Linked DNA regions of Homo sapiens: region 2 is linked to region 1. The links come from fine-mapping of genetic effects on gene expression. A gene starts in region 1. The other region holds a variant in brackets. All regions are shown on one strand. Distances are from middle to middle.

The links. PIP is the estimated chance that this variant, and not a neighbour inherited with it, causes the effect.
Region 2: its variant is fine-mapped to the expression of LRRC4B in prostate (GTEx, PIP above 0.99). The same link has a PIP of 0.9 or more in aorta.

The regions. Positions count from the first base shown.
Region 1 is chr19:50,563,288-50,572,686 of GRCh38, forward strand. It overlaps LRRC4B (leucine rich repeat containing 4B), which reads right to left and starts at 5,148. Exons shown (of 3, transcript NM_001080457.2): 1 at 4,657-5,148.
Region 2 is chr19:50,077,160-50,086,558 of GRCh38, forward strand. No RefSeq gene overlaps it. Among named protein-coding and RNA genes, the nearest start is that of SNAR-A4, 11 kb to the right of the region's middle. The variant G/A (reference allele first, on the strand shown) is at 5,652.

The DNA.
Region 1 (9,399 bases):
CACCCCCTGTCTGGCGGAGCCAGCCCAGCCTCAGGAACTGGGACTCGAAGGGAAGGGAGGTTCTCCCCAGTGGGGACAAAGGGTCTCCAAACTCAGAGTTAATGAGGTTTCCCGTACCCCACCAGAGAGGACACAAAGACGTGCCCCCTTCACCCAGCAAGGGTGATGGTGGAGGGGATGCTGCTGGGCTTGAGCGCTGCCAGGCACAGAGGGGAGCCCTGTCCTTTGCACCCCTATCTGGAGGTGAGGCCCTCCCTCCAGAAACAGCGTCCGCATCCCAGGTCCTCTAAGGCAGCCCCTGCTCTCCACCTGCTCTGGGGCCAAATGTGCAGCCTGGTGTACAGAGAAGCCCACCCCCTGCCTACGGGCTGTGATGCCACATGCTGGGGACAAGAGTGTGGGGTCTGTGGCCCACCCCAGCCATCAGCCAGCTGAGAAGGACAGGCTGCAACATGGTGCCTTCACGCAACGCTGACTTTCCAACACTGTGAGGGGCTGGCAGTTTCACAGCAGATCCTGGTCCTGGAGAATGGGCGTGTGCTCTGCGTCCTGGCAGTCTTAAGAACCACTTCTCCCAGAGAAGGATAAGACTCTTCCTGCTCTCGGCAAGGGAAGGAGGCCATTTAAGTGGAAACAGGGCCCAGTCAAAGTGAGGCTTGGAGTTAGGGCAAACTGATGGGGGGATGAAGGAGGAGGGGCAGAGAGAGGACCCGGCAAGGGAAACCAAGGGAAGGAGAGTGGAGAGGGTGACAGGGCACAAAGAGATGGAGCAGAGAGGAAGAGGAGCAAACAGCAGAGGTTGCAAACTCCTCTGTCTATGGAGCCCAGCAGGGAAGATGATCCCGATGCTGGTTAGAGGGGAGAGTGGGGAGTGGTGGCCCTTTGCACCTGAGCACAACCCACAGTTATCCAGGGGGAAGACGATTCCAAAAGCTGACAGTCTAGATTTTTATGCAAAATCTCTAATTTAAAAAATGTTGGCAACAAATTAAACATGTTGAAAGCACTGGGGGAAAATAACCCTCTTGGGCCGCCCGGAGGACCCCAGGTAAGTGAGTCCTCAGGGATGTGGGGAGAGGGAGCCACGGGGAAGGAGCAGGGGAGGCGGGGAGGCAGACAGGCTGGCAGGAACAGCAGCAGAGGTGAGGGCGAGTGACACAGAGGGACAAAGAAGGGAGGCACAGAGAGCGGTGTCGAGCAGAGACAGAAATAGAGGCAGGTTTCACAGCAGATGGGGTGGGAGAGGGAAAGACTGATGAATGAGTCCACAGACTAGACGGATGGGCCAGGTCAGCAAGACATTGGGGGCTGGGAGGGCAAAGGGTCAGTCCCAGGGAAGATGAGGGGAGATGGAGAGGCGAGACGGCTTGACAGAGACAGGAGGTCCAGGTGACACCTCGAGACAGATGCCCGGCCAGAGAGAGTGGGGTGAGAAGGGATGAAATGCAGGGAGAGAGGATGGAGAGAGAGAACCAGTGTGAGCTACACAGCAGGTGTCCTAGCAGGTGAGACAGGTGATTGAGGGGGTGGGGACCCTGGCAAGAAAGCAGGGCCAGGGTTCCGGAAGGGACTGAGGATTCAGCGGCCACCCCCGCCCCCAATCCCCAACCCACAGCACCTCTGCCTGAAGATCGGCCTCTCTGCATGGGCCCTGAGGGTGTGTGTGCAGGCACATGTGTGCACAGGCTCTGCTTGTGAGAGATGCCAGCGCCCTCTGATACCTGATGTCTTAATTCTGCTGACCTCTCGGACGGCGAGGAGGTCCCTGAGGAGCCCCGTGGCGAGAGGAACACTCTCAGGGCTGTCTCTGAGTGGGATTAAGGGTGACTGCTGGATGGGGCTGGCCCTCCCTGCAGTGCACACACGTGCCTCCGACGCTGGCACTCGGTTTGGTGTGTGCGCCACAGTGCACAGCTCTGTGACTGTCTTAGCGGCACCTGGGGCTGCATCTCTGTAGCTCTGGGGCCACCTCCGTGCCTTTTGCCTTGTGTCTGTCCGTAGGCGTGAGGCCACGAGGCCACAGGACCACAAGGCAAGGGCCTCCTGCCTTTGTCTCTCCCTCCAGGTCTGTGTACGAAGGACTGTGTGTGTCTCTGTGTGACACACGACTACAGGTCTGGGGACTGCTCCCTGTCTCTCCTGACCACTGGCTGACTGAGTGTGGGGGCTGCGTCTGCAACTGGGCCTCTCTGGTTCCATATCGGGGTCTCTGGCTGCCAGTGAATGACTGTGTGCTCTCGTGTGTGTGTGTGTGTGTGTGTGTGTGTGTGTGTGTACCTGCCAGGGGAATCTTTGCCTCCACGTGCCCCGTGTCTTCCTCGCACGCTCCCACTCTCTGTCGCTGACTTGCTGACTTGGGGTCCCTCTGACAAGTCAGAAGCGGCCTCTAATCCCCCAGAACTCTGGTGGCCAGTGTCCCCCGGCTCCCTGCTGGCCCCAGCAGGCACCCCGCGGGTCTGTCCCACCCTCCCTGAGTCTGTGGCTCCCTGCGTCTCTGCCTCACCCGCGTGTCTGCTCTCTGGGTGGGAGTGGCGTGTGTCCCCGGCTCCCCGACTCTTTCTTTCGGAAATTAAGTGAGTAACTCCGTGACTCCGTGCTGATGCCCTAATTGCCTGTATGTGTGTTTCGGAGGCTGGGTCCCTTCTCTCCCTCTGTGCCTCCCTCCCTGGCTCCCACTCTTCCCTTCCTTGGGTCTCTCTCCCCGCCTTTCGGCGGCTTCACTCTCTGTCCCTCATTTCTCTGTGTGCGTTTGGACAATCCGGTGGCCAGGAGGAGAGGAGCCCCAGGGAGGAGGAGGAGGAGGAAGGTGGGAAGGCGAAGTGGAGGCTGCGGAAAGGCAGGTTAGAAGGCGAAGGCTGCGGAAGATGCTACAGGAAGAGGGAGGTGCGGTCCTGGCCGCGGTCCGGGGGTGGGGGGCGGGAGTTTTCAGGCTCCTGGACCAGGAGGGAAGCCGGCTCCGGCTACTCCCAGCTGCCTGGAGCCCGAGTTCCTGTCTGGCGGCTGCGCGGCCGGGACTTGGGATGTGAGGCGCATAGCAATGGGGCGCTGCGGAGGCGCCACTGCAGCTCCCAGCTGGAGAGGGGGGCGGGGAGGGGGCCGAGGGGCAGCCCCGAGGCTCCCTTCCCCCTCCCCCTTCCCAGCTGGGCTCTCCCCAGGGGAATTCCCCACCCCGACAGAAAGTCACCAGAGGCTGCGGGGAGGGGGCAGGGAGGAGGGGAGGGCGCCTAGGAGGAGAGCAGAGGTGAGGAGGTCTGGGGAAGGAGATGGGGGTGCAGAGAGGAGGCGAAGGGGTGGAGGGGTGGGCAAGAGGCCATCCTGGGCTCTGGAGACTCGAGTCCTGGAGAGAGACTGGCTGGGCCCCTGGCAGGACAGGACCCCAGGGAGGCAGGGGCATAGAGATGGGGGGAACCCTGAGAGCCCGGGATTGATGGTGAGTTGGAAGGAGAGGCTCCCAAAAGGAGAGAGCTAGGATTGGGGGGGTCTGAGACTGGGGAGTACTATGGGGTGAGGAGACAACGATGGAGGGGGTCTCTGGGTGATGAAAGGTCATAGAAGGATGTTTCAGAGAGTGATGGGCTAAGGAGAAGGCGACTGGGGGTGTTGGGGAGAAAGGGGAGAGGCTGGGGTGCAAGGCCCAAAGAGGGGCGGGGAGGGAGTGGGAGGAGGGAGCTAGAGGAGAGGGCGGCTGAAGTGAGGGTCTCCTGGACAGAAGGTCTGGAGAGGGATATCTGGGGGATTGTCAGAGATGGGGGTTAGAGAAGGCTGAGGAGCAGATGCCGTGTCTTAGAAGGTCCTAGAAGAGCAGGTGTGAGGGTCGGAAGCCTGGGGAGGAGGCAGCAAATGGGGGGCGGGGGTCTCCAGGAGGAGAGGTTTCCAGGAGGGGAGGGCGGAGGGAGGTGGGAGAGGCAGTGGTCCTGGAGAGACACGTGCCCAAGGATAGAAGGCCCCAAAGCCTAGTGGGGTCAGGGAACGGGGGTCTTGGAGAGACGGAGGGGCAGGGGTCCGAGCCGCCCACCAGGAGAGGCGGGGTGACCCCAGAGGGAGAAGGGCTGAAGACTGGGGAGGGGGTTGTCTCACTCCCCAATCACCCCCTCCGTCTTTCCCATTTTCACTTCCCAAACTCCCCGGTTCTCCCCGGTTGCCACGGCAACCGCTCTTGCCAGGCGCGGTCACCAAGGAAACCCCGTGCCCGCCTCTCCCCCCTCCCCATCACTGGCGTGCCCCCCCCACCCCAAGCAGCAGCGGTGTGGAGGGTGGGAGGGGCCATGGGGAGAGGAAGAACCTGGACTCCCGCCCCAGAAAGGGGGGCCCGGACCTACGCCCGGAGAGCCCCCCACCCTAAGCCTACTTCCTCAGCCCCACAGCTGGATACGCAGCGACCGCCGGACGCACCCCCCACAACCTGTCCCCAGGCAGCGGCGACAACCACCCCCCCCACAGCACAGAACTCGCCCTGCCCGGAGAACCCCCACCCAGTCGCCTCCCCCACCGGCTTCTGCCTCCCATTAGGCCCCGCCCCCTGTCCTCTGCCATCCCCCCCCATCCCGGAGGAGGCCTAAGACCACTGTCCCCCAATTAGCGAATGCCCCCCACCCACCCCCCGCGGTTCCGCCTCCGGCCCCCGCCCCCGACCCGTGCCCCTTGGCGGCTACTCACAGCGAGGAGAGGGGTTCCTTCCGGGGGGCAGCATGCCCGGCCCGTGGGGGGAGGACCCCCCCAATGAGGCTCAGGAATTTGGGGTGCAAGGCCCGCTGCGGGGAGGCGCGGGGGGCGGGGCTGCGGCCGGGCCTGGAGCCTCTCGCGCTCTCCCCCCTCCCCGGCTCCTGGGTGGGGAGGGGGCTTCCGCAGCGGCGGCGGTGGGGCTGGGGGGGCCGCTCTGCCTCCTCGCCTCGCGCCCGCCTGCCGTCCGGCCCCGCGCCCTCGCCCGCCGCCCGCCTTCCTTCTTGCCTTCCTTTCTTTCCTTCTTTCTTTCCTGGCTTCCTTCCTTCCAGCCTTCCTTCCTTCCTTCCTCCCTCCTCGGGCCCGCCGGCGCCGCTCTCCCCCCACCCCACCCCCCCCCAGGCCCCGGCCCCGGCCCCGGCCCCCGCCTCGGACGGTGCGGCAGCGACCGAGAGCAGCCGAGAGCGGCGGAGACGGGAGCGGAATACTGATGATGGTGGGAGCGGGCGGGCGGAGGGAGGGAGCAGGGAGGGAGGCCCGGGAGGAGAGGAAGGGGGGAGAGAGGGAGGGGAGGGAGGGCAGCGTGGAGAGGGAGGAAGGAAAGAGGGGGGAAGAACCGGAGAGGATGGGAGAGGGAGGGAAGAAAGGAGAGGGAGACGGGAGGGAAGGGGAAGGGGGGGAGGAAAGAAGAGGGAAGGGGAGGAAAGAAGGAAGGAAGTGGGAAGGGGGTGGAAGAAAGAAGAGGGGGAGAAAAAGGGGAGGAGCAGGGGAGAGAGGAGGGAAAGGGGAGAGGGTGTGGGAGGGGAGGGGAGAGGAGGGGGTAACTCCTGCAATAAGGTCCTGGATGAAGGGGAGGGGAGGGCGGGGGGCAGGGGGAGTGGGTAGAGGAAGAGGAAAGGAGGGAGAGGAGGAGTGGAGGGGGAGATGGGTAGAGAGATGGGCAGGAGAGGCCCAGGGGCAGGGAAGTGAGGGGAAAGAGGAGGTAGGGAAGGCCTAACTTTGAGGGCTGCAGGGGACAGAGGGGCCTGGAGGGCGGCGGGGGCTGTGGGGAGAAGAATGGGGGGTGCGGTGTGCGTTGTCAGGAAGAGCAGGGGAAGCTGGCAGGACCCGGAAGAGGCAGGAGGATCTAAGTGGGACAGAGATGAGAGGATGGAAGAGGGAGGGAAGGACCCGTCGGGGGGAGGGGGGAGGAGAAAGATCTCGGGGGAGAGGAGAGAAGCTGGGGAGCTGGAGCTTTGAGGGCCCAAGACTGGGTGGCAAGAGCCCGGGGAGTAGACAGAGTGGGGGAGGGGACAGAGGGCCTTTCTTGAACTCCGCTGTATGCCCGCTTCGTCCGCCCCTCCACCTCATGAAGAGAAGAACCTTCAAACCCATTTTCCAGAAGAGACCACTGAGCTCTTGGAGGAGCCAGGATGGGGTTTGAATGCAGTCTTGGGCTGGGGGTACCCTGAGGGAGATGGAGAATGGGTCAGTTCCTAGCTTTCGTCCCTGGTCCAGACTTGGCAGGTGGAGGCACCTGGGAGGGGCAGAGGGCACAGCCTGCAGCCTCCCTACTCACTCTCCTCTCACCTCCCCCAGGTGTTGGCAGCGGGTGCTGGGGACGCATTTAGAGCTGTGAAGCTGAGCTGCATCTTGGGTGCAGGGAGGGGGAGGGCAGATGCAGAGGCCTCTGGGAGGTCACCGTGACCCTCCCCTCTACCTCCCCGGTCCACTACCCCAAAAGCTTGGGCCCCAAGGAAGGGGGACATCGGGAATCAGGGGCGGAGAAACCCAGAAGGAGGGGTGGCCCCTGTCCAGGACACTGAAGATCCTTCCAGATGTTAAAATTAGCACAGAAGTTTCACCCCTGCCTTGTTATCCCCCAAAACGCTGACTAATAACTGAGGACTCAGGAGAGAGAGAAGAAAGATGAAGGTTCCTTCTTTCAGTGCCAGGGGACCCGGGACAGACTCTCCCTCTTCCCCTTCTCCTCGGAGAGCCCCAGGGAGGGAAAGTGTGGCTGTACCCCTGCAGGCAGAGCCTGGGGAGAGTCAGGGTTGGAAGCTGGAAGGAAAGTGGGCCAGACACATCTATAATGAGCCAGGGTTCCCGAGAGAAGCCAGGTCACAGATGGGTTCGGAAGAGGCGGTTTTGGGTGGGCGCTGGTGGGTGCTGAGCCCTGAGAGCTGCCGAGAGGGGAAACTGAGAAGGGGCTGGGCGAGGGCCAGGGAGTGGCAGGTGGCTGTGGTGCTTCGGGTTTCACCCGCCCCTGGCGCCGCTCAAGTCTAGTTCGTGAGACTGGACCAGTGAATGTGTGTGTGCACCAGGGTCCAGCACAGAGTAGGCCAGGACCGATGGTGATACCAGCAAAACAGAATCACATGGTGGCAGCCCGCGGTTCCTCCTGGTCTCCCACAGGCCAGATGCTGTGCCCAGCACCTCACAAGCGTGGCATCAATCCTGCAACCATGCGGTACCAACTCCTAGGGATGGTGGTACCTGGTGGGCACAGGTGAGAGCAGGCCCCTGATGAGCCCTGAGTTAACCCTTTCATTACAAGAGGGTCTCGGCCGGGCATGGTGGCTCGCACCTGTAATCCCAGCACTTTGTGAGGCCGAGGCGGGAGGATCACTTGAGGTCGGGAGTTCGAGACCAGCCTGGCCAACATGGTGAAACCCCATCTCTACTAAAAATACAAAAATTAGCCAGGCATGGTGGTGCGCGCCTGTAATCCCAGCTACTCGGGAGGCTGAGGCACGAGAATCACTTGAACTCGGGAGGCCTCCAGAGGTTGCAGTGAGCCGAGATCACGTTATTGCACTCCAGCCTGGGTGACAGAGCGAAACTCAGTCTCAAAAAACAAACCAAGAGGGTCTCAGGTGAGAGGCCAAGCCGTGTCAGGTGGGGCCGTTAGAGAAGCAGGGAAGTATTCCAATATTTGAACAACCAGCGAACCCTCTTGGTCCATGCAGCCTAAGTCTCAGCCCTGCCTGGAGGGTATGACTGCCCCTGTTTTACTGAAGGAGAAATGATTTGCCGTCAACCTCCAGAGCTCATCAAGGGTCTTCAGCACCGGGCACTGTTCAGGGCTTTGAGAGCCCGGCCGGAGAACAGTAAGGAGACAGCCCCTGTCCCCGTGGAACTGACCCCTCAAGGTCCTATTTCCAAGAGCAGTGTGAGCAATGAAGAAAATAAGAGGACAATTAGGGAGGAGAGAAGTTGGTGGGCGGTCAGGAGGACAGACTTGAGGTGATCAGGGGAGGCCTCCTGGAGGAGGTGTCTTTTGTGGCGAGGCCAAAATAAGGAGATAGCTCATTGCGTGCACAGGGGCAAGCACCTGGGGCAGAGGCCCCCAGATGGCAGCAAGCCGGGCCCGTTTGAGAGATGGGAGCCAGATAGGTGTGGCGTGGAGGAAGAAGAGAAGCAGAGTGGAAAAAGATGAGGATGCGGCCCCAGGTTTGGCTCAAACACAAAACCAAATCTTAACGCTTCCCACTGTCCCCTAAACCTTGCCCTAAGGCTTAACTCTAATCTCCCACTCAGGTGACTGTCCTGAGCAACTGGAACACTGATCCTCAGTTTTGATTCATGTTGTCAACATGGATTGGGGACTCTGATGTCCCAGAAATGGTATTAGGTAAGAGACAGGGACAGTGACCCTCCACAGTAATGAGTGCTCAAAGGTATTTTCACCATTTCAAAAAATAAAACCAAAAAACAAAAACAGACAAAAAAAAAATGGAAGTTGTACATTTCCTTCGGGATGGGATTTCAGAGGTTAAATTTCAAATTTCTTTGCTTCAGGCTGTAAAAAAAATTATCCACTCAGTGTGTTCACTGCCTGTCTCACCCCAATCAGAAGCTATGATCGGCAGTTTGGTATACCTTTGATAAATAAAATATGGGAAAATGAATGAACTTTTCACTTAATGTAGTTTGGTTTGCTCAGAAAAATCTCTCAAAGTGGGACTCATGGGGGACAATGGCTAAAGGAATCACAGCCACTCAGATGTTCCTGTTATTTAGTTCCACACAGTTGCACTGGACAACTCCCAGGCACCTTTCACCTGGGCTGTGATATAACAAGACTGCCACCCATGATAGGAAGCTATGGGAAGGTGGCTCGCACCACCATGGGTGCTAAGCTGCTTGGCCTTATGCCTTACCCCAATTCTCCTTTTTTATTTTTTTTGAGACAGGGCCTCGCTCTGTCACCCAGGCTGGAGTGCAGTGGTGCGATGTTGGCTCACCGCAACCTCCACCTCCCATTCTCGTGCCTCAGCCTCCGAGTAGCTGGGACTACAGGCGTGCACAACCATGCCCGGCTAAGTTTTGTATTTTTAGTAGAGATGGGGGTTTCACCATGTCGGCCAGACTGGTCTTGAACTCCTGGCTTCAGGTGATCGCCTGCCTCAGCCTCCCAAAGTTCTGGGTTTACAGGCATGAGCTGCTGTACCCAGGCCCTTAGCCCCAATTCTGACCATCACTAACTGCTATGATCTGAATATGTTCCCCCAAAATTCCTATGTTGAAACTTAATTGCCAATGTGACAGTATTAACAGGTGGGTCCTTTATGAGGTGATTAAGTTGCAAGGATAGAGCCCTCATGAATGCCATTAGTGACTTTATTTATTTATTTATTTATTGGAGATAGTCTCACGCTGTCACCCAGGCTGGAGTGCAGTGGCAAGATCTCTGCTCATTGCAACCTCTGCCTCCCGGGCTCAAGCAGTTCTCGTGCCTCAACCTCCCAAGTAGCT
Region 2 (9,399 bases), 490 kb before region 1:
ACACCCCGGGCCAATCATTGGGTCCAGTTTGGAGCCTACTCTTGGGCCCGCCTCCTGCCTTTGCTGACTCCTCCTCCTCCTCCCCTGCCCATCTTGCCCAGGATTGGTCCAAAGCCCCTCTGGACCTCATCCCTTTTTGCTGGAAGGATGAATTCATCTCCTGGAAGCCATATATGTAGGGGTCCCTTGACTGACAGTTCCAAATGAATCACACGGCAATGGGCAAGGGACAGTCCCTCAAAGCAGTAGGTGTCCACTACATTCTACCCTCAGCTACTTCACACTAATTCACATCTACATTCCGGGACACAACATTTCAAAAACTCCCACTGCAAAAATTGGTCCAATCACTGTGTCAGTTTGCTAGGACTGATGTAACAGGTTACAATAACCTAGCTGAAAACAACAGAAATTTATTCTCTCACAGCTCTGGAGGCCAGAAGTCTGAAGTCAATGTGGTAGTAACCACCAGGCACAGTGGCTCATGCCTGTAAATCCCAGCACTTTGGGAGGCTGAGGCAGGAGGATTGCTCAAGCCCAGGAGTTTGAGACCAGGTAATATGGTGAGATTCTCTTAAAAAAAAAAAAAAAAAATTGGCCGGGCATGGTGATGTTCACTTGTAGTTCCAGCTACTTTGGAGGTCGAGGTGGGAGTATTGCTCGAGCTCAGGAGTTCGAGACCAGCCTGGGCAGCATAGCAAGACCCTGTCTCTACAACTAATAGTAGTAATAATAATAATAGTAAAATTATCCAGGCATGATGGTGCTCACCTGTAGTCCCAGCTACTCTGGTGGCTGAGGCAGGAGGATCACTTGAGCCCAGGAGTTTGAGGCTGCAGTGAGCTGTGATGGCACTGCTGCCCTGCATCTCAAAAACATGATGCCGTGTGATACAGCCAGATACAAGGGTATATGCTGTAGGATTCCACTTTTGTGAAATTGTAGAAAGAAAACACTAATATGGGCGGGGCATGGTGGCTCACGCCTGTAATCCTAGCACTTTGGGAGGCTGAGGCAGGCGGATTACTTGAGATCAGGAGTTCAAAAGCAGCCTGGCACCTGTAATCCCAGCTACCTGGGAGGCTGAGTAGGAGAATCGGGAGGCGGAGGTTGCAGTGGGCCGATCATGCCACTGCACTCCAGCCTGGGCAACAGAGTGAGACTCCAACTCAAAAAAGAAAGAGAGAAAGAAAGAAAGAGAGAGAGAGAGAGAGAAGGAAGGAAGGAGAGAGAGACACAAAGAAAGAAAGAAAGAAAGAAAGAAAGAAAGAAAGAAAGAAAGAAAGAAAGAAAGAAAGAAAGGGGCCAGAGGCCAGGCACGGTGGCTCACCCTGTAATCCCAGCACTTTGGGAGGCCGAGGCAGGTGGATCACGAGGTCAGGAGTTCAAGACCAGCCTGGCCAACATGGTAAAACCCCATCTCTACTAAAAATACAAAAATTAACCGGGTGTGGTAGCGAGTGCCTGTAATCCCAGCTACTTGGAAGGCTGAGGCAGGAGAATGGCTTGAACCTGGGAGGCGGAGGTTGTAGTGAGCTGAGATCACACCACTGAACTCCAGCCTGGGTGACAGAGTAAAAGAAAAGAAAAGAAGAGAAGAGAAGAAAAGAGAAAAGAAAAGGCTAATACGCAGGGGCAGAAAATGGATTAGTGGTTGACTGGGGGCAGTGGCAGTGGTTATGGAGAGACTGATTACTAGTGGACACAGGAAAACTTTCCGGATGATGGAAGTGATCACACAACCGAATACATTTGTCAAAATTCATTGCGTTTAAAATTGGTTCATTTAAATTCTTGTACATTGTTGCAAAATACACATAACACAAACTTTACCATCTTAGCCAATTTTTTTTTTTTTTGAGACGGAGTCTCGCTGCAATGCCCAGGCTGGAGTGCAATGGCATGGTCTTGGCTCACTGCAACCTCTGCTTCCCCGGTTCAAGCGATTCTCCTGCCTCAGCTTCCAGAGTAGCTGAGATTACAGGCATGAGCCACTTTCCCAGGACTTAGCCAATTTTAAGTGTACAGTTGCATTGTTGTGCAATCATCACCCCTACTCATCTCCACTCTTTCCTCTTGTAGAATTGAAACTGTTCCCATCAAGCAACTCCCACTGCCTTCCCTTCCCAGCCCCTGGGAAGCACGTTCTACTCTCTGGGAAATTCCCTATGAATTTGACTACTCTAGGTACCTCATGTAAGTGGAATCATACAGCATCTGTCTTTTTGTGATGGGATTGTTTCACTTAGCATGAATGTCCTCAGGCTTCACCCATGTTGTAGCATGTGTTAGCATTTCCTTCCTTTTTAAGGTTAAATAATTTTCCATTATGGGCCTGGTGCAGTGGCTCACACCTGTAATCCCAGCACTTTGGGAGGAAGAGGCAGGCGGATCACGAGGTCAGGAAATCGAGACCATCCTGGTCAACATGGTGAAACCCCATCTCTACTAAACTACAAAAAATTAGCCGGGCGTGGTGGCAGGCGCCTGTAGTCCCAGCTACTTGGGAGGCTGAGGCAGGGGAATCACTTAAACCTGGGAGGCGGAGGTTGCAGTGAGCCAAGATCGCACCACTGCACTCTAGCCTGGGCGACAGAGCGAGACTCCATCTCAAAAAAAAAATCCATTATGTGTATATACCACATTTTGTCGAACCATTTATTTGTTGATGAACAGCTGGGTTGCCTCCTTTACCTTTTGGGTATTGTAAATAATGCTGCTATGAAAGTGGGTTGCAAATATCTTTTTGAAATATTGATCCATTTTCTTGTACACAAATTATATTTTGATAAAGTTGGCTAAAACTAATACTCCCACCTAACATAACTATCTCTAGTGCAACTGCAGAAGCTTTCACCCCTTCTGCAAAGGGAGGGATCCCAAAGCCACATCCAATCCTCAGACCAAGATTTCTGGATATTGGCTATTCCTTTCATCAAGGGCACATGGAGTCTCTCTTGATCCTGAAAATTAATGTTAAGGCTGGGCACGGTAGCTCACACCTGTAATCCCAGCACTTTGGGAGGCCAAGGCAAGTGGATCACCTGAGGTCAGGAGTTCAAGACCAGCCTGGCCAGCATGGTGAAACCCTGTCTCTACTAAAAGTACAAAAATTAGCCCGGCATGGTGGCACACACCTATAATCCCAGCTACTCGGGAGGCCGAGGCAGAAGAATCACTTGAACCTGGGAGGCGGAGGTTGCAGTCAGTGGAGATTGTGCCACTGCACTCCAGCCTGGTGACAGAGCAAGACTCCATCTAAAAAAAAAATTAATGTTAAATGAAATTGTAGCCCCCTCAGCAACCCACCCCTGTGTATAACAGTGGAGGAAAAACAAGAAAACAATCACAATTCTCACTTGAAAGGGGAGGGAAGAGAAACAAAATAGTATATGCCATTTGCTAGACTTGCCAAGACTCCTGCACTTTCAAGAGACAAAAAACCGGCCTTTTAAAAAATTATTGCCAAGCTCGGTGGCTCATGCCTGTAATTCCAGCACTTTGAGAGGCTAAGATTGGAGGATCACTAGAGCCCAGGAGTTCGAGACCCAGCCTTGGCAACATAGCAAGACTCCATCTCTTTAAAAAAAAAAAAAAAAAAATATATATATATATATATATATATATAGCCAAGTGCCATGGTGTGCACCTGTAGTCCCAGCTACTCAAGAGGCTAAGGTGGGAGGATCGCTTGAGCCCAGGAGGTCAAGGCTGCAGTGAGCCATGGTTGAGCCACTGCAGTCCAGTCTGGACGACAGAGACCCAGTTTCAAAAAAAAAATTATTGAAGTACAACATACTCACAAAGAAACTCACAAATACCCAGTAAGTATGGATCAGATGACAGACTGAGCACACCATGTAACCATGGGTAACCAGCCCTGGGTCAGGAACTAGAACATTACCAGCTCTCCAAACCCCTCATGCTCCTTGTCAGTCACTTTTTTGTGTTTTTTTTTTTTTTTTGAGACAGAGTCTCGCCTGGAGTGCAGTGGCGCTATCTCGGCTCACTGCAAGCTCCGCCTCCTGGGTTCACGCCATTCTCCTGCCTCGGCCTCCCGAGTAGCCGGGACTACAGGCGCCTGCCACTATGCCTGGCTAATTTTTTTGTATTTTTAGTAGAGACGGGGTTTCACCGTGTTAGCCAGGATGGTCTCGATCTCCTGACCTCATGATCTGCCCACCTCGGCCTCCCAAAGTGCTGGGATTACAGGCGTGAGCCACCGCGCCCGGCCCCTTGTCAGTCACTTCTTCACCTCAAAGGTAACTACTACCCTGATTTCTGACACCATAAGTCAGTTTGCCTTGTTTTTGATCTTAATCTGCTTGGAATCCTACAAGCATAGAGACTTGTGTGTTGGAATTCTTTTTTTTTTTTTTTTTTTTTTTTGAGACGGAGAGTCGCTCTGTCACCAGGCTGGAGTGCAGTGGCATGATCTCAGCTCACTGCAACCTTCGCCTCCCAGGTTCAAACGATTCTCCTGCCTCAGCCTCCTGAGTAGCTGGGATTACAGGTGCGCACTACCACACCCAGCTAATTTTTTGTATTTTTAGTAGAGACAGGGTTTCACCATGTTGGCCAGGATGGTTTCTATTTCTTGACCTCGTGATCTGCCCATCTCGGCCTCCCAAAGTGTTGGAATTACAGGCGTGAGCCATTGCACCTGGCCTGAATTGTTTTATTCATCATACGTCTATGAGATTTGTCCATGTAGTTGCTGATTGTTGGAGGTTGTTCATTATCATTGCTGTATAAGAGTGTGTTATGAGCCAGGCACGGTGGCTCATGCCTATAATCCTAGCACTTTAGGAGGGTGAGGCAAGCAGATATCTTGAGCACAGGAGTTCAAGACCAGCCTGAGCAACATAGCAAGACCCCGTCTCTACAAAAAAAATACAAAAATTAGTGGGGTGTGGTGGTGCGTGCCTATCATCTCAGCTACTTGGGAAGCTGAGGTGGGAGGATGGCTTGAGCTTGGGAGGCAGAAATTGCAGTGAGCTGAGATCACACCACTGCACTACAGCCTGGGTGACAGAGGACAATCTTGTCTCAAAAAAAAAAGTGTGTTATGGGAATACATAATAATCTATGTATCCATTCTACTGTTGATTGACATTTAGGTGCCTTCTGATTTGGCATGATCACTTACAGTACTGCTATATACATTGAATTTTGGTGAACATATGTAGGCATTTCTGTATTTCTGTTGGGTATATACCTAGAAGTGTAATTGCTGGGTCCCAGGGTGTATGCATGGTGTGGGCATGTTCCTCTTTTTTTTTTTTTTTTTGAGATGGGAGTGGCCAGGCTGGTCGTGACCTCAAGTGATCCGCCGCCTCCCAAAGTGTTGGAATTACAGGCATGAGTCACCATTCCCAGCTTCATGTTCATCCTTAATAGACACTGCCAACCAGGTTTTCAAACTAATTTTCTCCATTTATACACCCGCCAGCAGTCTCTGAGAATTTCAGCTGCTCGCCAACATTTGGTATTGTTAGTCCTTTCAATTTTAGCAATTCTGGTGGGGCTGTAGCCGTGTTTTATTATGGTTTTAATTTACCTTTAGCCCAATGCCTAAAGAAATTTAACACCGTTTTGGGCCAGGCGCAGTGGCTCATGCCTATAATCCCAGCACTTTGGGAGGCCGAGGC[G/A]GGTGGATCACGAGGTCAGGAGATCGAGACCACGGTGAAACCCCGTCTCTACTAAAAATACAAAAAATTAGCTGGGCGCAGTGGCGGGTGCCTGTAGTCCCAGCTACTCAGGAGGCTGAGGCAGGAGAATGGCGTGAACCCAGAAGGCGGAGCTTGCAGTGAGCCAAGATCACGCCACTGCACTCCAGCCTGGGAGACAGAGCGAGACTCCGTCTCAAAAAAAAAATAAGAAAGAAATTTAACACTGTTTCAAATATTTATTGGGCATATGAACATGCTACTTTGTGAAATGTCAATTCACGCCATTCGTCCATTTTTCGACTGGTTTTTCTGCCTTTTTTAAAAAACAGGTTAGTAGGAGTTATTTCTTTATTTTTCTTATGAGTCTTTTGTTAGAATACATATTCTTCTCCCACTCTCTGGCTTGTCTTTTCATTCTCTTAATGGTATTTTTTGATGAGGATCAGTTTCTATTTTAATATAGTCCAATTTATCAACATTTTCCTTTATAGTTAAGGCTCCTTTGTTTCTGGTTTAAGAAATATTTTCTGGCCAGGCACACTGGCTCATGCCTGTAATCTCAGCACTTTGGGAGGCTGAGGAGGGAGGATCATATGAGCCTAGGAGTTCGAGACCAGCCTGGGCAACATAGCGAGACCCTATCTCTATTAACACAAACAAGTAAATAAAAGAAATATTTTCTTACCCTGAAGGTTCTGAAGATACTCTATGATATTTTCTTCTAGAAGTTTTATTGTTTAAGCTTTAACATTTAGATCTACAACACATCTGGAATCAATTTTTGTGTATGGTGTGAGGTAGAGGTCATATGGTTATCAACTGGCTCAGCCCTATTTATCCAAAAAGATCATCTTTTGCTTCTCACTGCACTGAAATGTTGCTTTTGTCATAAACCAAGTTACCGTATATGTGTGAACTTTTCCTGATTTTTCCGTCTTGTTCTTTTGGTCTATTTGTTTTTCCTTGCAAGAGTATGCTGCTTTAATTATTATTATAATAAGCCTTGCTCTCTGGAAAGTACTCTGGCTTTTTTTGTTTTTGACAAAGGGAATTTGTTGACTTATAGAACCGAGCTATATAACTAGCTTCAGGCATAACTGGATCCAGGCACTAAAATGAATCTTTAGCAATACCGCTCATTTCCCATCTGGGCTTTACTTTTCTGTATCTTGACTTCCCTCTCAGGCAGAATCTCTTCCCTCACGGTGACAAACAGGGCCCACAGCAGCTCGAAGCTTCCATACTATCATTTTAACAACCTAGCTTATCATTTTAACAACCTAGCAGAAAAGGGGTACTGCCTTCCTGAATGGTGATACCAAAGTCTCAAGGTTAGCTCTCATTGGCCCAACTTGGGTCACATGTCCATTTCTATAGTAACCATGTGTCTTAGTCCATGTTGTCTTGCTATAAAGGAAAACCTGACGCTGGGTAATTTTTATTTTATTTTATTATTTTTTTTTTGAGACAGGATCTTGCTCTGTCACCTAGGCTGGAGTGCAGTGGCGCAATCTTGGCTCACTACAATGTCCGCCTCCCAGGTACAAGTGATTCTCCTGCCTCCAGTGTAGCTGGTATGACAGGTGCCCGCCACCACACCTGGCTAATTTTTTGTATTTTTAGTAGAGACAGGGTTTCACCATGTTAGCCAGGCTGGTCTCGAACTCCTGACCTAAAGTGATCCACGAGGCTGGGTAATTTATAAAGAGAAAAAGGTGTATTTGGCTTATGATTCTGCTGGCTGGAAGATTGGGCATACAGAGAAAGTCTAGAGCTACTTCCACTCTTGGTGGAAGGAGAAAGAAAGCAGGGATCATGTGACAATAGAGGAAGCAAGAGAGGCAAGTGTCAGCCTCTCTTTAACAACCAACTCTAATGGGAACTAATGGAGGAAGAACTCACTCACCCACACTCCCAGGGAGGGCATTAATCTATTTGTGAGGGGTCCACCCCTGTGACCCAAACACCTCTCATTAGGACCCCATCTCCAACATTGGGGATCCAATTTCAAGAACGAAATTTAGAAGGCAGCCTGGCCAACACGGGGAAACCCCGTCTCTCCTAAAAATACAAAAATTAGCCGGGCGTGGCATGTGCCTATAATCCCAGCTACTCAGGAGGCGGAGGCAGAAGGGTCACTTGAACCCAGGAGGTGGAGGTTGCACTGAGCCAAGATTGTGCAACTGCACTCCAGCCTGGGTGACAAAGCAAAACTCTGTCTCAAAAAAAAAAAAAAAAAATTGGATGGGACATACATCCAAACTACTGCACATCATAACCAAGGTCATGAAGTACTCAGGTTGGCCAGGTCTGACTCTTGTTCTCACTCTGAGATCCCTGGCAAGATCCAGTCAAAAAATGTATATTTTGCATGGAGAGGAGTGATAGGAAAATCAGATGTTTAAGAGAATAAAAAGAGAAGCTATAGATTGTGAGAAAATCTTTTCAAAACACCTATCAGACAAAAAGCTGGTATCCAGGCCAGGTGTGGTGGCTCACATCTGTAATCCCAGCATTTTGAGAGGCTGAGGTGGGCGGATCACCTGAGGTCAGGAGTTTGAGAGCAGCCTGGCCAACGTGGCAAAACCCTGTCTCTACTAAAAATACAAAAATTAGCCTGGCATGGTGGTGGGTGCCTGTAATCCCAGCTACTCGGGAGGCTGAAGCAAGAGAATCACTTGAACCTGGGAGGCGGAGGTGGCAGTGAGCTAAGATTGCGCCATTGCACTCCAGCCTGGGCAACAGAGCAAGACCTTGTCTGAAAAAAAAGAAAAGAAAGAAAGAAAAAGAAAAAGAGAAAAGAAAGCTGGTATACAAAGAACTAAAACTTAACAATAAGAAAACAAACAACCCGCTCCCTCTCCATCTCCCTCTCCCTCTCCCTCTCCCTCTCCCATCTCCCCACGGTCTCCCTCTCCCTCTCTTTCCACAGTCTCCCTCTCCCTCTCTTTCCACGGTCTCCCTCTGATGCCGAGCCGAAGCTGGACTGTACTGCTGCCATCTCGGCTCACGCAACCTCCCTGCCTGATTCTCCTGCCTCAGCCTGCCAAGTGCCTGCCATTGCAGGCACACGCCGCCACGCCTGACTGGTTTTCGTATTTTTTTGGTGGAGACGGGATTTCGCTGTGTTGGCCAGGCCGGTCTCCAGCTCCTAACCGCGAGTGATCCGCCAGCCTCGGCCTCCCGAGGTGCCGGGATTGCAGACGGAGTCTGGTTCACTCAGTGCTCAATGGCGCCCAGGCTGGAGTGCAGTGGCGTGATCTCGGCTCGCTACAACCTCCATCTCCCAGCCGCCTGCCTTGGCTTCCCAAAGTGCCAAGATTGCAGCCTCTGCCCGGCCACCACCCCGTCGGGGAAGTGAGGAGCATCTCTGCCTGGCCGCCCATCGTCTGGGACGTGAGGAGCCCCTCTGCCTGGCTGCCCAGTCTGGAAAGTGAGGAGCGCCTCTTCCCGGCTGCCATCCCATCTAGGAAGTGAGGAGCACCTCTTCCCGGCCGCCATCCCATCTAGGAAGTGAGGAGCGTCTCTGCCTGGCCGCCCACCGTCTGAGATGTGGGGAGCGCCTCTGCCCCGCCGCCCCGTCTGGTATGTGAGGAGCGCCTCTACCCGGCCGCGACCCCGTCTGGGAGGTGAGGAGCGTCTCTGCCCGGCCGCCCCGTCTGAGAAGTGAGGAGACCCTCCGCCTGGCAACCGCCCCGTCTGAGAAGTGAGGAGCCCCTCCGCCCGG